Linked DNA regions of Homo sapiens: region 2 is linked to region 1. Evidence: fine-mapped expression QTL. Tissue or cell type: spinal cord. Region 1 holds a variant in brackets; the other region holds the start of a gene. All regions are shown on one strand. Distances are between the middles of the regions.

What was found. PIP is the estimated chance that this variant, and not a neighbour inherited with it, causes the effect.
Region 2: it holds the start of CKAP4, and the variant in region 1 is fine-mapped to the expression of CKAP4 in spinal cord (GTEx, PIP 0.96).

Annotation. Positions count from the first base shown.
Region 1 is chr12:106,300,771-106,308,874 of GRCh38, reverse strand. TCP11L2 (t-complex 11 like 2) reads right to left here and starts at 6,142. Exons shown (of 10, transcript NM_152772.3): 1 at 5,934-6,142. RefSeq lists enhancers at 6,075-6,214, 6,225-6,304, 5,479-6,364 and a silencer at 6,385-6,504. The variant T/C (reference allele first, on the strand shown) is at 4,851.
Region 2 is chr12:106,243,928-106,252,031 of GRCh38, reverse strand. CKAP4 (cytoskeleton associated protein 4) reads left to right here and starts at 4,012. Exons shown (of 2, transcript NM_006825.4): 1 at 4,012-4,663. The coding sequence starts at 4,181. LOC124903008 (a long non-coding RNA gene) reads right to left here and starts at 3,760. Exons shown (of 2, transcript XR_007063443.1): 1 at 3,273-3,760; 2 at 1-2,361. RefSeq lists silencers at 3,437-3,776, 3,807-4,116, 4,777-4,866.

The DNA of each region.
Region 1 (8,104 bases):
ATTCATTCAGTGTCAGCTAAATCAGAATCCCTGAATCTCATTTGGTACAGCTTCAACCAGAACATTTGCAACCTGATATCATGACACGTTAACCAGGCTGGTACTGCCAAAGCCCAAGCCTTAGAGCAGAGAATCTACTGCTTAAGCCTATCTTATTAGATTTAAACCTCAAGATTCTCAGGTCCTTGTCATGCTCTTATTTGAATATCTTAAAGTTTGTTTCCACTTTAAGTCATTTTTCCCCCAGTTATTCCCCTGTAATGTAACCGCTGTGCTATGCATGCTCTGCTCTTAATTTTTCTCTACTTCGGTTGCCCTCAAATGAGCTCTGGCTGTTTTTCCAAGTGAAATTGAATAAGAGCTTCCAGCCATGAGAATTTATGAACTAGCTTAATAGTTTTAACTGTCCATTTCATTTTTCTACTTTAGCTGGATAGCACACTTGGTAGGTTTCTTAACTGTGTTTAACAAGGCAGAAAAGTGCAAAGATTAAAATAATTGGGAGTCAGGAGTCCAGGGTTTGTGGCCTGGGTTCATCATTAATGTGCCGTGTGACTTTATGCACATTTTTCTGAGAGGTTGGGCCAGTCATAAGGTTTCTCTCAGCAAGGAATATATGATGCTCCAAACCCAGAGTTCCATGAGGCATCACTAGAAGTTCTGAGAAATTAAATGTGCTTATGGCAGTCATGCTTAACAATGTGAAACTACACTTTCTTCCAGCAATTCACTGGAGGTAGAGTTCCTGGCACAGGGGCTGCAATGGAAAATTTAAAAGCTTCAAAATGTTTAGAAACTCTTGTTTAGTGGGTAGAAGCCTCCACATTACAACTGGGCCTTAGTGTATCCAAACAGAAACCTGTATTTGAAGCCAAAATGCCCATTATTACTCTATTAAAAATTTGTCTGTTTCCTCATATAGGCTTACTAAGAATACCTAATTCATAGGGTTGGTGTGAGATTTCAGGTACCCAATACATGCAGCGTGTTTGGAACAGTCATTGACACAGTAAACAGTATACAAATGTTTTCTATTATTTGCTTTTTTTTGTTAATATCATTGCCTCAGGAATTAAACACTCTGGAGGGAAGAACAGTTTTATGTCAGGATAACACCATATTCTTCAACAGACAAACAAGGCTGGTAGTTAACATAGAACAGAACTCTTGGCACTTGTTTGACAGACAAAAACCAAAAGCGAATGGCCCATCACTGTGTGAATGGTCTTCCGCAAGTTCCTTCATACCTGCTCTTACCTTTCTCGGTCTTGAGTTTCCAAGTAAGTCACCTGGGGACAAACCTACTTGATTCAAAAGGCACTGAGGATATTTAGATTGCTTTAAAAACTATTTTGGATTATCCTTTAGACTGATGATAATGAAACCAGGCTGTATCTTTAAGAAAGGTAATACTCCTTATGCAAACTTAGATCTACCTAACCTTTGCCACTGCAACTCACAAGTAAATCAAACAACTTTTCAGAAACATCACATCTCATCATACCTGGAGGATTTAATCACTGGTCAAAGGTAAAGTCAACAGAAAAGACTGAAGATGACTCCAAGCAAAGCCTCCAACACGATAGCAGGTCACTATTCAAAGAAAAGTACTGTCATATTCACATTTTTGATTGTATTATTCCATCACTTTGTGATAATAAATATAATGTCATTTCTTCTGAGACCATCACTGGAATGCAGCAAGCATTCAAATATTTATTCAAATATTTATTGTTGAATAAATGAATGGTAGTAAGACTACTGACATTTAAGAGGTGTGAATGGGTACAAGGACTTGAAGGGGCTAGTGCTGTATTTCACTACAGATAGAGAGGAGATTGGTTTTTAATTTGCTTGTGATTCCTCAGCTCGTGTGCAGCTTTACTTCCTGATTTCCTTTCTGCAGCAACTCTATCTGCAAATAGTTCTGCACTGGTTCAGAATTGCAAAGATACACTGATGATAATACATGTCACTGAAGCCATAAGAACATTGCCTCTGGAGCTAGGTGGACTGGGTTCTTGATCCCGGCTCCTCTTGATTATTTACTGACTAGAAACAGAGAACTCGCCATTTGTAAAATGGGACAATAATAGTATCCACCTTGTAGAAGTGTTGTGAAGATTAACTGAAATAGTATCTGTCAAGTACTTAAGCTCCTAGTAAGTGCCTGACGGATGTCAACTATTATTTTATTCTTATTAAAAGAAGTTACAAGTTCCGAAAATGTAATGTCATAAAAAACAAAGAAAGGTTGAGAATATGTTCCAAATGAAAAAAAAACACTTGATAACTGAGTGCAATAGGTGATCCTAGAGTGGATCCTATACTGAAGCAAAAATGCTGTAAAGGACAGTATCAGTCAATCAATAGCACTGTTAACAATATTTGAATCTACTGTCTGTTATCCAATGTTAAATATACTGAAGTTGAAATGTACTGTGGTTTTGTATTTAGGAATAAAGGGCCATGACATATACAACTTTTTCTCAAATGATTCAAATGCAAGAGAGAAAAAATAATAAAGCACATAGAGCAAAATGTTAATAGGTGAATCTGAGAAAAAGGTAGACAACATGGTATTCCTTATACTATTCTCACGACTTTATCTGTAAGTTTGAAAGTATTTCCAAATAGAAGGTTAAAAGAGAAGATGACAGGCTGAACTGAAACTTCAAGATTCAAATTCAGAACAGTCCAACCTCTTGCAGTTTTGAAATTCTGATTGTGCCCACTGCTGTGATAGCTTAAATACCACTCTATTACAAGAACTCTTCTAGACAGTCAAACTTGTCCTGATGTCCTTCTTGAACAGTGCCTAAAGAATAAAACAGGAAATAGGCCAGAGCCCTCCAGAAAAGGCAAAATAGATAATCCTTTTTAAGAGTTCATCCCTAGGTGGGTTCCCTTTTCCTAAGTCACTGGGCCATGGTTTACAACCCTCTGTGATCTTAACTCTGCCCACCTTATTCTGCAGTGTTCTCCCACTAACCCTTCATGATCTTCTTTGCGTTCCTCAGACATGCCAAACTTCCTATTTCGGGGCACTCATACCTGCTGTTCTCTGCCCCTGAAATGTTCCTCTCCCTGATCTCCTTGTGGTTGGCTCCCTATTGTCATTCAGATTTGAAATTTAATGTCACCAACTACGAGGTAACCTTCCCTGATTGCTACACTCACTGCATCTAATGAGCCAGCTAGAGCTTAGAACACCGCTAGGGCTAGAGCAGGAGCTCAGTGAGTACAGCTGCATGAACTAATTACGCCACACTCCTATTCATAAGACACCTTGAGTTTTCCTTCTTTTCTGCCTCACTCACATTACTCATATTCCCATTACGCAGTCACTTACAGTACTACACTTGTGTGCATATCTGTCTCCCACTAGATTTTAAGCTGCTGGTGGAAGCGATGACTCTCCTCTCCAATTCCCAGTGCCTACTTCAGTGCATTTGCAAGGCACCAAAAATTCAAACTAGCAAAGACCCACAGTTCCAGGAGGTTAAAGAAACTCACGTGTAGCAAATAACAACAATTACAGCTAACAGTAATTGAGTGCTTATTATTGAGGTAGTAATAAGCACTCAATAACTGTTCTATGATAAGTTCTTTATATATTTTATCTCCTTGAATCCTTATTATAACCTTGTTAGCTAATGTATCAGTATTATCCCCATTTTATAATAAGATCCTGAGGCCCAGAGAGGTTGCGTTACTTGCCCAAGGGTTCACAGCAGTGTAGAGGCACAACTCAAATCCAGGAAGCGGATCCCTAAAACCCATGCTCTCTACCACTCCAGTTTGGCTGGAGAAAATTTGGTGTGCTGCTCATTCTTTCCACTCCCACTCTGCCAAATCCATCTACCCATCACCCTGTGGACACTTGCACATGTGGTAGCAAGCTGATCTTATCCTGGTATGGCTGCTCAAGTGCTATTCTGTGAAGGGCATCACTGAAGGAGTACGTCACCCAAAACAATTCTTCACCACCCCGCTACAGTGACAGAAAATCCTCTAGGAGGGAGCCATTCTTTATGCACCGCAAAATCCCTAGTTAGACCCCACGTATTAGCAAAAAGGTTAACTGCTTACAGTCATAAACATTTTGGAGTGAAATATTCAGATTACCCAGCAGGGCCTTGAGGAATTGAACCCATCCAGTTAAGGTTAGCTCACGCAAAAAAGAAATTTCAAGAAACTTCTAGTGTGTACCATCCTTCAACACTAGATCGAGGTCAGCTGCAAGGACAAGCCTTCACATATGTGTAGTAAAGGGAAGGGAGTCAGAGGACTAAGTCTGGGCTCTAAAGAAAAAAATTGCAGATGATGTGAAAAATTTCCATCTTCTGCAAAATGCTGCTTTAGAATCAGTCTTAAATAGCAGCACTAAAGTTATTCATCCACAGCAAAGCAAAAACCATAGAGCAGAGGGATAGGGGCCCATACCATTCATCTAGACAATACTGGTCTTCATCAAGTTAGAACCAACAAAGAGCTAGATAAAAGCCAACAAGCCAGTCACTGTCCACAAAGCAGATGTTCACGTTACACGTGGCATTACAGCATCAGGGAGAAGGATTCCTGGCACTTTTCACATTTGAAAGCACTCCTCCCACACTTGCTGGTCTGTTTTGTTTTAATACCTGTGCTTCCCCCTCTGGGGCCCTCAACCTCTCACAAAATGGCATTGAAGCTGCTTCCACACATGACTGGGTATCTTCGGCCCTGGGCCTCTTCAAATCAGGCAACTTCCACTGGCTGTCAGGGTGATGCATGAAATCCCTAGAGAAGAGAGGAAAAGGACCACGGCAGGGAGCCTCCTCAAGTGGGAACCACTGAGATTAACTCAT[T/C]ATCCGTTGGCAGGTAAGAAGAGCAAAGTCCCTGACTGGGCTGGTGACCATGGGTGCTGAGACACCCACTGGGGACAAGGACAACTTGTCCAGTTTCTTCACAGTTAAGGTAGCAGGACAACCATCTAAGATTTCCCAAACTTAAGTCGTTTGAGTGCCACTCTTCATGACTATTTCTACGTCTCCCTCCTTACCTTTACTATAATTTAGTAACCGCGTCTCTATCTTGACTAGATTTTTGCATTTAAATATATTTATTTTAAAAGGAAACTCTATCATTGTGAAACTGCTTACTTAATGGAACAGATTTTCTTAATAGTAACGAAAACAAGTAACTATGTTCATCCATATGCCACCTCAAATCATTGCTATTACCCCCAGTGGTGCCACCTACAGTAGCAGCTTTGGGAAGCACAAGCAACACCTGAGGGTTCAGCGTTCGAGCCCAGGCCCAATCGGCTTTTCTCCACCTCTTCCCCTTAACCAAAGGTCCCGGCAAGGGGACGCAGCAGCAGTCTGCACGACCTCACCCACGTCCTCTGGCCGCCCCTCCCCTCCAGCAGCACCAGGTTTCCTGTCAAAACAAACCCTTGGGGGAGGGGACGGCGGAGGCAGAGCTGAGTGCCGGGGAAACCACGGCAACAAATCCCAAACACACGCTGCCGGGCCCGCCCTGCCTCTACCCTGGCTCAGTTCCCTACTCCAGCCCGGCCGAGGAGTGTGGGGGAAGGGGGTGCCCTGGGCCCCTGATGGCGGGATGCCGCTGGTACCTGTCCAGCAGGATTTAAACAGCGGCGAAGCGGCCTCCGAGGCCCGAAGTCCGTGTCCACCCCGACACGCGGGGCGGCCACTCGGTGCCCCGCTCCCCGCTCCCACGCGGGACGGCAGTTCGAGGTCAAACAAGGGGACGCGGAGTGGGAAGACATGAACTAGGAGCCGAGCTTGATGGCCCCTGACCCCGCCTTCCCAGGATGGAGTTCCGAGATAGGGCAGGGGAGCCTTCGGGCTGCAGCGGTGTCCCCTCCGTTGGACCTGGCCGGTCACCTCCGAGCCGGCAACGCCTCCCCCGTGATGGATACGCACCGGGTCCAGCACGTAGACAAGAGGAGAACGGCGACGGAGTGACCCCGGGTCAGGGCTCTCTGGGCGTCCCCTCACCGAGCACAGCACAGTCACCTCGAAAACTCACCAGCCCAACAAACCCCCCCAGCCCCAGTGTCCCCCCCAACGCGGTATTTAAAGGGCCCTGAGGGACTCTAGGGAGGCAGCCACGGCGCGGCCATCACAAAACCGGATAGCGGGGGGACGACGGCGCGACGGGGCAAGGGGATCCAGGGCCCTTCAGTCTCCGAAAGCCGAGCGCTCACAGACTGAACCTATTAGAGAAACAGTCTTCGTCAGTTTGAACCAGAGAGGCCGAGAACAGCTCGGATGGGAGGGTGTTTCGGATGCGAGAGGGCACGGTTCCCCCGCGCGGCGAGTGGTGCGGTCCGGGCTGCCGGGGGCGGGGTGAGAAGTGTTTACGGAACTGAGGCCGCCGAGCCGACGGGAGCGCCCGGCGTTGGGGGCGGGGCCTGCCAGGGCACTGGGGGCGGGGCCGAGTGGGGGAGCGGGGGCTGAGCGGGGGCTGAGCGGGGGCTGAGCGGGGGCTGAGCGGGGGCTGAGCGGGGGCTGAGCGGGGGCTGAGCGGGGGCTGAGCGGGGGGAGCGGGGGCTGAGCGGGGCTCTGGGGAGGTGGGCGAAGCCGCGGGCCAAGCCTCCAGTGGAGTGCCGGACAGATCCCCTGGGCTTCCAGGCGCACTGGCGTGGACCACACTGCGAGCTCCCGGCCGCGCGTGGAACATTGAGTGCCCGCACACCCCTGTCTAGACGGGGCAATCGGAACTGGGTGCCCACCAACACACTGTCCACACTTACAGAGACAACCCAACCAACAACGCTGCTGGTGGGCTTTCCCACGCACGTCAGCCACTAACCGGGTCATCTCCAGTTGCGTCTACACCTCCACATAAACACGGGTCTAGATTTGCACCTGCACGGGACGATTAGCTCCTTGGAGTCACACCCATCCAGGCCCTCTGAAGACTTGGCGTGCGTGCAAAAGATAAAGCGTCTTACTTCCTCTAGGGTTCTTGGCAGCACCTATCTCCGGGAGAAGTTTCCACCTTGGTTAATGTAAATAACCAGTCCCAGGAGGGCTCTGTGCCGTCTGGCCTGCTGCTCAGCTCCTGCTGTGGGCGTGCTTGAGGGTGTAGAGAAACAAGCTTCCCCCAACTGTTCACATCAAAACTATGCCTTCTGCCAGGTGTAAATCGGTGCTGTATTACTTGGGAAATAGTTTCATGCAGGAACTACTTACATGAAGTTTGTATAGACTAAAGTATTTCTGTTTAGTGCCGAAATTATGTCTGGATTGTGGAGGCAGATTGGCCACCACCGTTCAAAAACAACAACAACAAACAACAGGCAACATTTTAAAGCAGGGTAGAAAGTCAGTTGTTCAGTGGTTACAACACAGACTCCTCTATGGTTCCAGTCCTGGCTCTGACATTCACTATCCATGAGATCTTGGTCTCTGGGGATAACAATGATAGCTATTTCCTTGGGTTATTTTGAGGATAAAGTGAAATAAAGCATGTGAAGTGCTTAGCAGGGTGCACAGTAAGCACTCTAAGTATTAGTTATTGAAATTCTTTGGCAAACCACTGTGGCCAAACTTAGCTGGTGATCTGTATAAATTTGTATCTGTGCCTCCTTTTGCCACTTTCCTCTCTTCTCCTAAAATATACAACCTAATAATACAGGTTAAGAGATTAAATAGAAGGTGCTGTCCCCACCTGAGTTCTTCCCTACAAACATGCTCTTATTTGTGTCATTCGTTGGATAAGTAATCAGAATGACAGAAGCCTCCAATTTCAATTCCTGCCAAATGACAACCACCACACAACTGCCATCACCACCCTAAAAACTCCACAATAGAAAGATGAACACCCAAATCCCCCAAACTTCTGGTAATTCTGTGACAATGACACATGGCAACATTACTTCCTTTGTTAGCTTTGTAAGGATTTAAGTATTGTTTTGAGCTATGACATAAGTTGGAGCAGGTGACCATGAGTCAGGGTAGTTGTCCTTTATACTGGAGTGACCAGCTGCCTGATCCTAGGCATGACACTTCTTTTAAAGTTCAGATATGTAGCTCTCAAAGCCACCAGGAAAGCAGCTTTTGTCAAAGCAAGTTCAACTGTAACATCA
Region 2 (8,104 bases), 57 kb after region 1:
TTGACCTTATAATTTATGGTGCATGTGGTATGAGGGAGTTCTGAGGCATTTTTACACAAGCTGGATGAAAGGATGAGATGTCTCCAGCTCCCCCTCTTCTCCGCCCACATTCCTGACCATCCAACACACTTTAGCAAGGAAAAGGGATAGAGGAAACAAAACTAGGAGGAAAAGCAGAAGAGAAACTCCTCTAGATTCATGCTGTGCTCAGAAACTGGGGTAGGAGAATGGAAGTCTCCAGGAAGAGCTGTTGATCCCTTCCTGCTCTGGAAGATGCACTTCTATGACTGCCCACCAGCCTCCTCCTCTGGGTGTAACCGAACACCATGGTGGAGCCACACTTCAGAGAAACACACTGCTTGCTTTTAACGTTAAACACATCCTAGCCTGTGGTTTGTGAGCCACATATGGTCCTGGGAGCCCCACGAAATAATGATGAAAGAAAATCGTTGAAATCTGGACACAGAAGCTCTCTGAAGCTATACTTTTCCTCAGTGACTCTGCAAATTGTATTAGCTGTCCAATATTCACTGAGCATTGCCATATGCCCAGTATCATATGGTGTCTCTTGTCTAATCCGCATAACAGCAAGGTTGTTCTTTTTTTTTGGGTGGAGTGCAATGGTGAACAGGGCTCACTGCAGCCTTGACTTTCCAGGCCCAAGTGATCCTCTCACCTCAGCTCCCCAAGTAGCTGGGACTACAGTCACACTCCACCATGCCTGGATAATTTTTTTTTGTATTTTTTGTAGGGACAGGGTTTTGCCTTGTTGCCCAGGCTTGTTTTGAACTCTTGGGCTCAAGCAGTCCATCTGCCTCGGCCTCCCCAAGTACTGGGATTATAGGTGTGAGCCACCACACCTGGCCTAGTGAGGTAGCAATTACTCCTGTCTTATAGCTGAAGATACTGAGGTTCAGAGAGGTCACACTCCAAAGTCAGTCATGGAGCTGAATTTGAACCCAAGTCAGTCTATTCTATAGCCTGTGTCTTAACCATTGTATGTACTATCTCCCAGAGGAAAAGAATGAGAGGGAAATGCTGAAAATATTAACAGTCCCATCGTCCTACTCTCTATTCATTCATTCAGTGCTCAGTAGAGGTAAAAATTGAGAAACCGTCCATTCTCATATCTGGCCTACAGTCTGCTTTTTTTTTTTTCCTGAGACAGGGTCTTGCTCTGTTGCCCAGGCTGGAGTACAGTGGTGCCATCATAGCTCACTATAACCTTGAACTCCCAGGCTCAAGCGATCCTCCTGTCTCAGCCTCCTGAGTGCCACCACATCCAGCTAAATTTTTTTTGGTGGAGTCAGGGTCTTGCTGTTATCTAGGCTGGTCTTGAACTCCTGGCCTCAAGTGATCTTCCTGCCTTGGCCTCCCATAGCGTTGGGATTACAGGTGTGAGGCACTGTACTTGGCCTGGATCAATTTTTAAAAATTTAAATATCATTTAATTATTTTTGATAAGGATCAGATGACTATTTCTCTAAGAAACGGATTAATAATAAGACAGGTCCTTAAAGATGCACCTTACAGAAAGGGTGACCCTGAAATCTAGAGGAGTTTAGGGATACTTCTCAAGGTCACACACTTTGGTAGCACTAAAGGAGTAGGGCTCTTGCTTTCAAGGCCAGATCTTGGCAGCAAGCTGCTTTACCAGTTATCACTGCCTCTGCCCCTAACATGGAGAACTGCTTGAAGGGGGATAACCTCTTTTTGCGCGCTAGAGATTTTAACAACACAACCCGAACTCAGCTGAATAGTTTTTAAACAAGGTTCCTGTGATGAGTGTCTTCTGATTTCTTCTGCTGTCTCCCCGCGCCACAGGTCAGAGACCTGTGCCCTGTTGAACCTAGAGGCTCCTACAATAGCTCCTGGTATTTAGCTGAAGTAGGGTGTTCCTCTCTGTCTGGGGCAGATGGTTGTATTTCTAGTCCAGAACCTGCTATAATTTACTCTGTCCTCCCACACTAATAGCGATTCTTCTATCTGCCAGCTTGGCTTCTATAGCCTTCTGCAATCTGGACCCGCTCCACCCAGTTCATCTCTTTCTTCTCTACATGTAGAACACACCCTCATGGCCAACAGGTGTCCTGGGCTCACCCCATTTCCGCCACAGAAATATCCTCCCTGCTCTCCTCATATGCAAATCATTCTTCAAGGCACTGCTCAAGGTCTTTCTGCCCCCAAAGCCTGCCCATGTACAGGCCAATGGTTTGCTTTCCAAATCTCTTTACATTTATGTTCCCAATTTACCTAAGTTAGCCCTCAACAGGTTTCTGTATATATCTCCAAGTGTAGTGCAGGCTCCTTGAGGGCAGGCACACAAGTGTTCATTCATTCACTGGAGGCTTTTAGCAACACCTTATAAAGCGAGAAAGAAGGAGAAATATAAACTATGGTTGCTTCCAGTCCTCAGGGAGGGGAGACATACCTGGCACACAGTGGGCCCTCAACAAAGGTTTGCTATATTGAACTAACATATATGCCTCTCGTTGCAATTACTTGCTAAGTCCCATGAGAGGTATCAAATGGTGTTATAGGGAAAGCATCATCAAAGAGGTGGCATTTGAACCCTATAGGCTTTAAGGGCAGGGCATGGTTTTGTCTTTGTTTACAGAACTGGGAGGAGGTTACAGACAGAAGAAACAGCATTCCTACTACACACAGTGCCAGGTGCACACAGTGCCAGGCACACATCACTCACCAGAAACTGGGGAAAGCAGTGGAATTGAGTGAGTTCTGTCCCTGCCCCGGCACCAATTAGACTGAGTGAGTGGGCAAGTTGCTTAACTTCCCTGGGCCCCCGTTTCCTTCCCATTCTGAAGTGATTAAGCTGCACAGACTTCAGAAAGAAGCAGACTGAGTGAGGTTCGAATGATGACTATATGTGACCTTGAGCCAATCCGAAGCCGGCTCGCTCAGTCTCAATTTCCTTCCTATAAAATGGGTAAAATAATTTCTACCTCACAGGGCTTTTGTGAGATTTCGAGAACATATGTGAGTCGCTAACCACACAGCCTGGCAATACCAGATTTCCTTTTACAAAAGTAGGGGTGACAACGCTGATCTGCCTCTTTCTGTGTGGCTGCTGCTGCCTCCGCAGCACCCATCCCAGAGGCTGTCAGGAGTAGGGGCCGTGGACAAACTTCATGACCCCGAAAGAGAAAACAGAGCTGAAGGGGCTTCGGGGGGAAAAAGTAAAGAGCTGGCCACAGCAGGCTAACTTGGCTAACGGGGACACTTGGTGAATGCGTCCCCTTGAACAGACTTACCACAGTCGAGAATCTTTGCTAACTCGCATCAACCATGCCTCCCAAGCTGGCTGGATTTTGGACAGCCTTTTTTGTCTCCGCCTTCAAACCCAAGGCAAAGGACAAGGCCCAACCCCATGGCGGGCTGGGAGAGTGAAAGCAGGGGGAGTCCCCCAATTCCCAGCGGAAAGGAAGGGCGATCTGTTCCCACCCGCTGACTCCCACTCCCGGGGCCAGGGCTCCTTGGGCGCCCCCCTTCATTTCTCTCCTCTCCGCACAGGTCGGGAAGGGAGGGGGTCGCGCTTGGCCCGCGGCGCAGGTTCACCCCGGCTTTCGTCCCTCCGACCCCGCCTGGCCGCCCATCCCCGACCCCCGTGGACCCTGCTCGGCCGCCCCGGCTGGGGTCGATCTGGCCCTCCGCCCCCAGCCTGCGTGGAACCCGCCGGGCCGCCAGCCCCACCTCGGCCGCGTCCCCTCCCCTCCGCTCCGCTCTTCTCCCCTCCCCTCGCGGCCACCTCGGTGCCCACCCCGGCCTCCGCAGACCCCGCCGGGACCCCGCCCCGCGCCCAGCCACCCCCGCGCCGGCTTCCCGGCCCCCGTAGACCCCGCCCGGCCCTCCCTCTCCGGGGTCGTGGCGGCGGGGAGGAGGGGCCGCCGGGCCGGCGTGCGTGGCAAGCTCTCCCGGCTCGGCTCGCTCGGCCTCCCTTACCGGGAGGCGGGGTCGGCGCCGCGGCGGCGGAGGCAGGCCCCCTCCTCCCGCCTCCTCGGCCCGGCCTCCTTCCCCGGCCGCGCGTCCTCTCGCCGCTCCGACGCCAGCAGCGCCCGCGTGCCGCTCGCCCAGTCCCGGGGGAGCCCCTGCAAGTTTCCCGGGCCGCGCGCCGCGCTCGCTCGCCTCCCAGCCCGCGGCCCGAGCCGCCGCCGCGCCCGCCATGCCCTCGGCCAAACAAAGGGGCTCCAAGGGCGGCCACGGCGCCGCGAGCCCCTCGGAGAAGGGTGCCCACCCGTCGGGCGGCGCGGATGACGTGGCGAAGAAGCCGCCGCCGGCGCCGCAGCAGCCGCCGCCGCCGCCCGCGCCGCACCCGCAGCAGCACCCGCAGCAGCACCCGCAGAACCAGGCGCACGGCAAGGGCGGCCACCGCGGCGGCGGCGGCGGCGGCGGCAAGTCCTCCTCCTCCTCCTCCGCCTCCGCCGCCGCTGCCGCCGCCGCCGCCTCGTCCTCGGCGTCCTGCTCGCGCAGGCTCGGCAGGGCGCTCAACTTTCTCTTCTACCTCGCCCTGGTGGCGGCGGCCGCTTTCTCGGGCTGGTGCGTCCACCACGTCCTGGAGGAGGTCCAGCAGGTCCGGCGCAGCCACCAGGACTTCTCCCGGCAGAGGGAGGAGCTGGGCCAGGGCTTGCAGGGCGTCGAGCAGAAGGTGGGTACCCCCGGCCCCGCAACTGTCCCCATCGACTGCGGCCTCCGGACCCACGGCCGGGCTCCTTCGTGCTTCCCGACCGGCCCCTAGCGCTGCCTGCCCAGGCCCGGAGGCGGGAGCCGGCCGCTCCTCCTTGGCGGGCCCTGGCCTAGACATCCCACTCCACGCGGCCCCCTAGTTCCGAGGCAGTCCCCAGACCCCCTTTGTTAATGGCTGCGGAGGAATCGGCCCCGAGGGATGGGCCGCCGCGAGGATGCCCAGGCCCGCCTGGCAGGGTGGGCCAAGGGCCTGTCACAGGGCATTAGCGGTGACCTGTAAGGAAGCCGGCAGGCTCCGGGGAGCCCATTCTTTCTGCATTAGGAACCGCTGAATGGGCAGAGCTGTCTGAAAAGGAGGTTGGAAGGGAAGCCAGCGCATCCCTGGAAGCCTCAGGCAAGGCCCCACCTCAGCTCTGCCTGTGGGAGACATCCGAGCGGGGTTTTTAATAGACCCGGAGCTGGCATTCTTACTCATTTGCAGGTCCAAATGAAATACCATCTATCTTTAGGTCCCTTGTCCTGTATTGGACCAGCCTGCCCAGGTGGGCCTTTGACGTAGTCCTACTTCAGCTTTTTTGGGTTTTCTTTTGAGAGGGAGTCTGGCTCTGTCGCCCAGGCTGGAGTGCAGTGGTACGATCTCAGCTCACTGCAACCTCTGCCTCCCAGGTTCCAGCGATTCTCCTGCCTCAGCCTCCTGAGTAGCTGGGATTACAGACATGTGCCACCATACCCAGCTAATTTTTTATTAGTAGTAGAGACAAAGTTTCACCGTATTGGCCAGGCTGGTCTCGAACTTCTGACCTCAAGTGATCCGCCTGCCTCGGCCTCCCAAAGTGCTGGGATTACAGGCGTGAGCCACTGCGCCCGGCCCTACTTCCGCTTTAGGGGAAGAGGAGGGCCAAAAATACTAGATCATACTGGTGAATAATACTTCTAGCCACATTTATATGGTGTTTAGAATGCTTACTCACTCACATATTATCTAATTCTTATAACTACCCTGGGAGGGAGGACTAACAGTTTTGATTTCATTTCCCAGAGCAGAACATTGAGGTTTAGACAGAGGAATGAGTTGACAAAGTCCCCAGCTGGTGAGTGACAGACACACGAGAATGTCTAGGCCACTGCCCTGTTCGTCAAGGGTCCACAGGGGTCCATTTCAGGTATGGATGGACCCAACTCTCAAGGCGAAGGTGCTTAGCTTCCACCCTTCTGTGGTTTTTCCATACCAAGTACAGCCCCTTTGATCTTATTCGCCCTCCACTATGTCATTGCTCAATGAAAGTTGGTTGCAAGACTGAAACAAAAAATCCCGCCACTTCTGATCCCGGAGCCACTGCCTCCTTTTCCCAGCATGCTGTCTGTCCTGCCAAGTTGCTCTCTGCTTTTGTTGAGTGTGCAGGACCAGGAATTTCCTCTTAAGACTGGCAGAGCACGGCCGGGCGTGGTGGCTCACGCCTGTAATCCCGGCACTGTAGGAGGCCGAGGCGGGCGGATCACCTGAGGTCAGAAGTTTGAGAGCAGCCTGGCCAACATGGTGAAACCCTGTGTCTACTAAAAATACAAAAATTAGCGGGGTGTGGTGGCACATGCCTGTAGTCCCAGCTACTCAGGAGGTTGAGGCAGGAGAATTGCTTGAACCCGGGAGGTGGAGGTTGCAGTGAGCGGAAATCCTGCCAGTGCACCCCAGCCGGGGCAACAGAGTGAGACTCCGTCTCAAAAAAAAAAAAAAAAAAAAAAAAGACTGGCAGAGCAACTGGAATGAGTCAGCCTGCTAAACGCTGCAGGCCAAGGGAGGTGACTTTTCTAAGGGAATTAAGTAGGCAGTGCTGCTTTGCCTATCCTGAATGTCAAACCATTCTTAAAAAATAGACATACTGCTGGAGTATAATGACTAGCCTCTGTTTCTTCTCTTTCATCCTCCTACTTACTAGTCAATCATAATATTTATTAAAGTCTGACAGTTGCATGGCTCTGTGTAGGCTTTGTGGGAGGGTATGAAGGAGCAAAAGACACGAATCACTTGTGCAGCGCATAAGGAGGTGTCAGTTGAGGGTAACTCCTGTGAAAGTTCAGAAGAGGGAGGGTGTGGAATTTCGCCTGTATCCCGGTGGCCAGGGTAGTGCCAGCCATCTAGCTGGTGATCGATAAATGTTGAGAGAAGGACTGTGATGAACACCGTGGCAGGGGCACTATTTTGAGCATGTTTGAGAGAGAGGAGGTGGCTACCCTGCCAATGGCAGAGTCACATGTAGGAAATTGTGAGAGAGGGTGGGTTGGAAGTTGAGGCCAAAATAGGGAAGGTCTTGAATCCAGGTTAATTCTCTGTGCTTCTCCCTGCCCCTCACTTAGTCCCTTCTTTTTGCTTCTCACCCCTTCTCCATCACAGCTATGTATATAGATCACTTTCTTCTTTGGGGCTCAGTTTTCCCACCCACACAATGAGAAGAGGGCTCCATCCAGACTTTTAAGAATCCTCATGGCTCTAAAATAATTGAAATAGTGACTTCTCTGTTTTTTATTTCATATTTTATATTTCGTAGAGACAGGGTCTCACTCTGTCACCAGGCTGGAGCGTAGTGGTGTGATCATAGCTCACTGCAGCCTTGAACTCCTGGCCTCAAGTGTTCCTCTTGCCTCAGCCTCACAAGTAGCTGGGACCACAGGCATGCACAAGCACGTCCAGCTATTTATTTATTTTTAAAATTTTTGGTAGAGACAGGGTCTTGCTGTGTTGCTCAGGCTGGTCTCAAACTCCTGGGCTCAAGCAGTCCTCCTGCCTTGGCCTCTCAAAGTGCTGGGATTACAGATGTGAGCCACTGCGCCTGGCTGACCACTTTTCTTTTAATTTAGTAGTGTAATCAAACTATAATTTAATGTGTCATATTTATGGTGCACTTATTACGTGCCAGGCACTATGCAAAGCATTTGAAAATGCATCATCTGCTGACTCTCACAACAACCCCAAGAGGTAAGTACTATTATCAGCCCTCTTTGACAGATGAGAAAAGTGAGAGGCTAAGTAACTGAGCGGTGATATAGCTAGTTAGTGGCTGGGCTAGGATCCAAACTGTTGTCTAACTCCTGGAACACTATTAACCACTCCACTATTTAGCCTAGTACATAGTAGGTGCCCAATAAATGTTCCATTGACTTGAGACTCAGAACATGGCCAGAACAGTGTTAGATTTGCCATAGAATGTGGCCACTCTGTCTGTATCTTTGGGGTGGCCAGTAAATAAATTATTTTGCATTGAGGAACCAGTTGTGTTTGGTTCTCTGACAGCCTAAGTTTGAACCCTTTTATAACTCTTGGTTACTTGTTGGGGGGTGGAGTTTGGTTCATAGCAGGGAAGTATACTTACAGTATTCATAATTACTGTTCACTATGGGTCAGCCATGC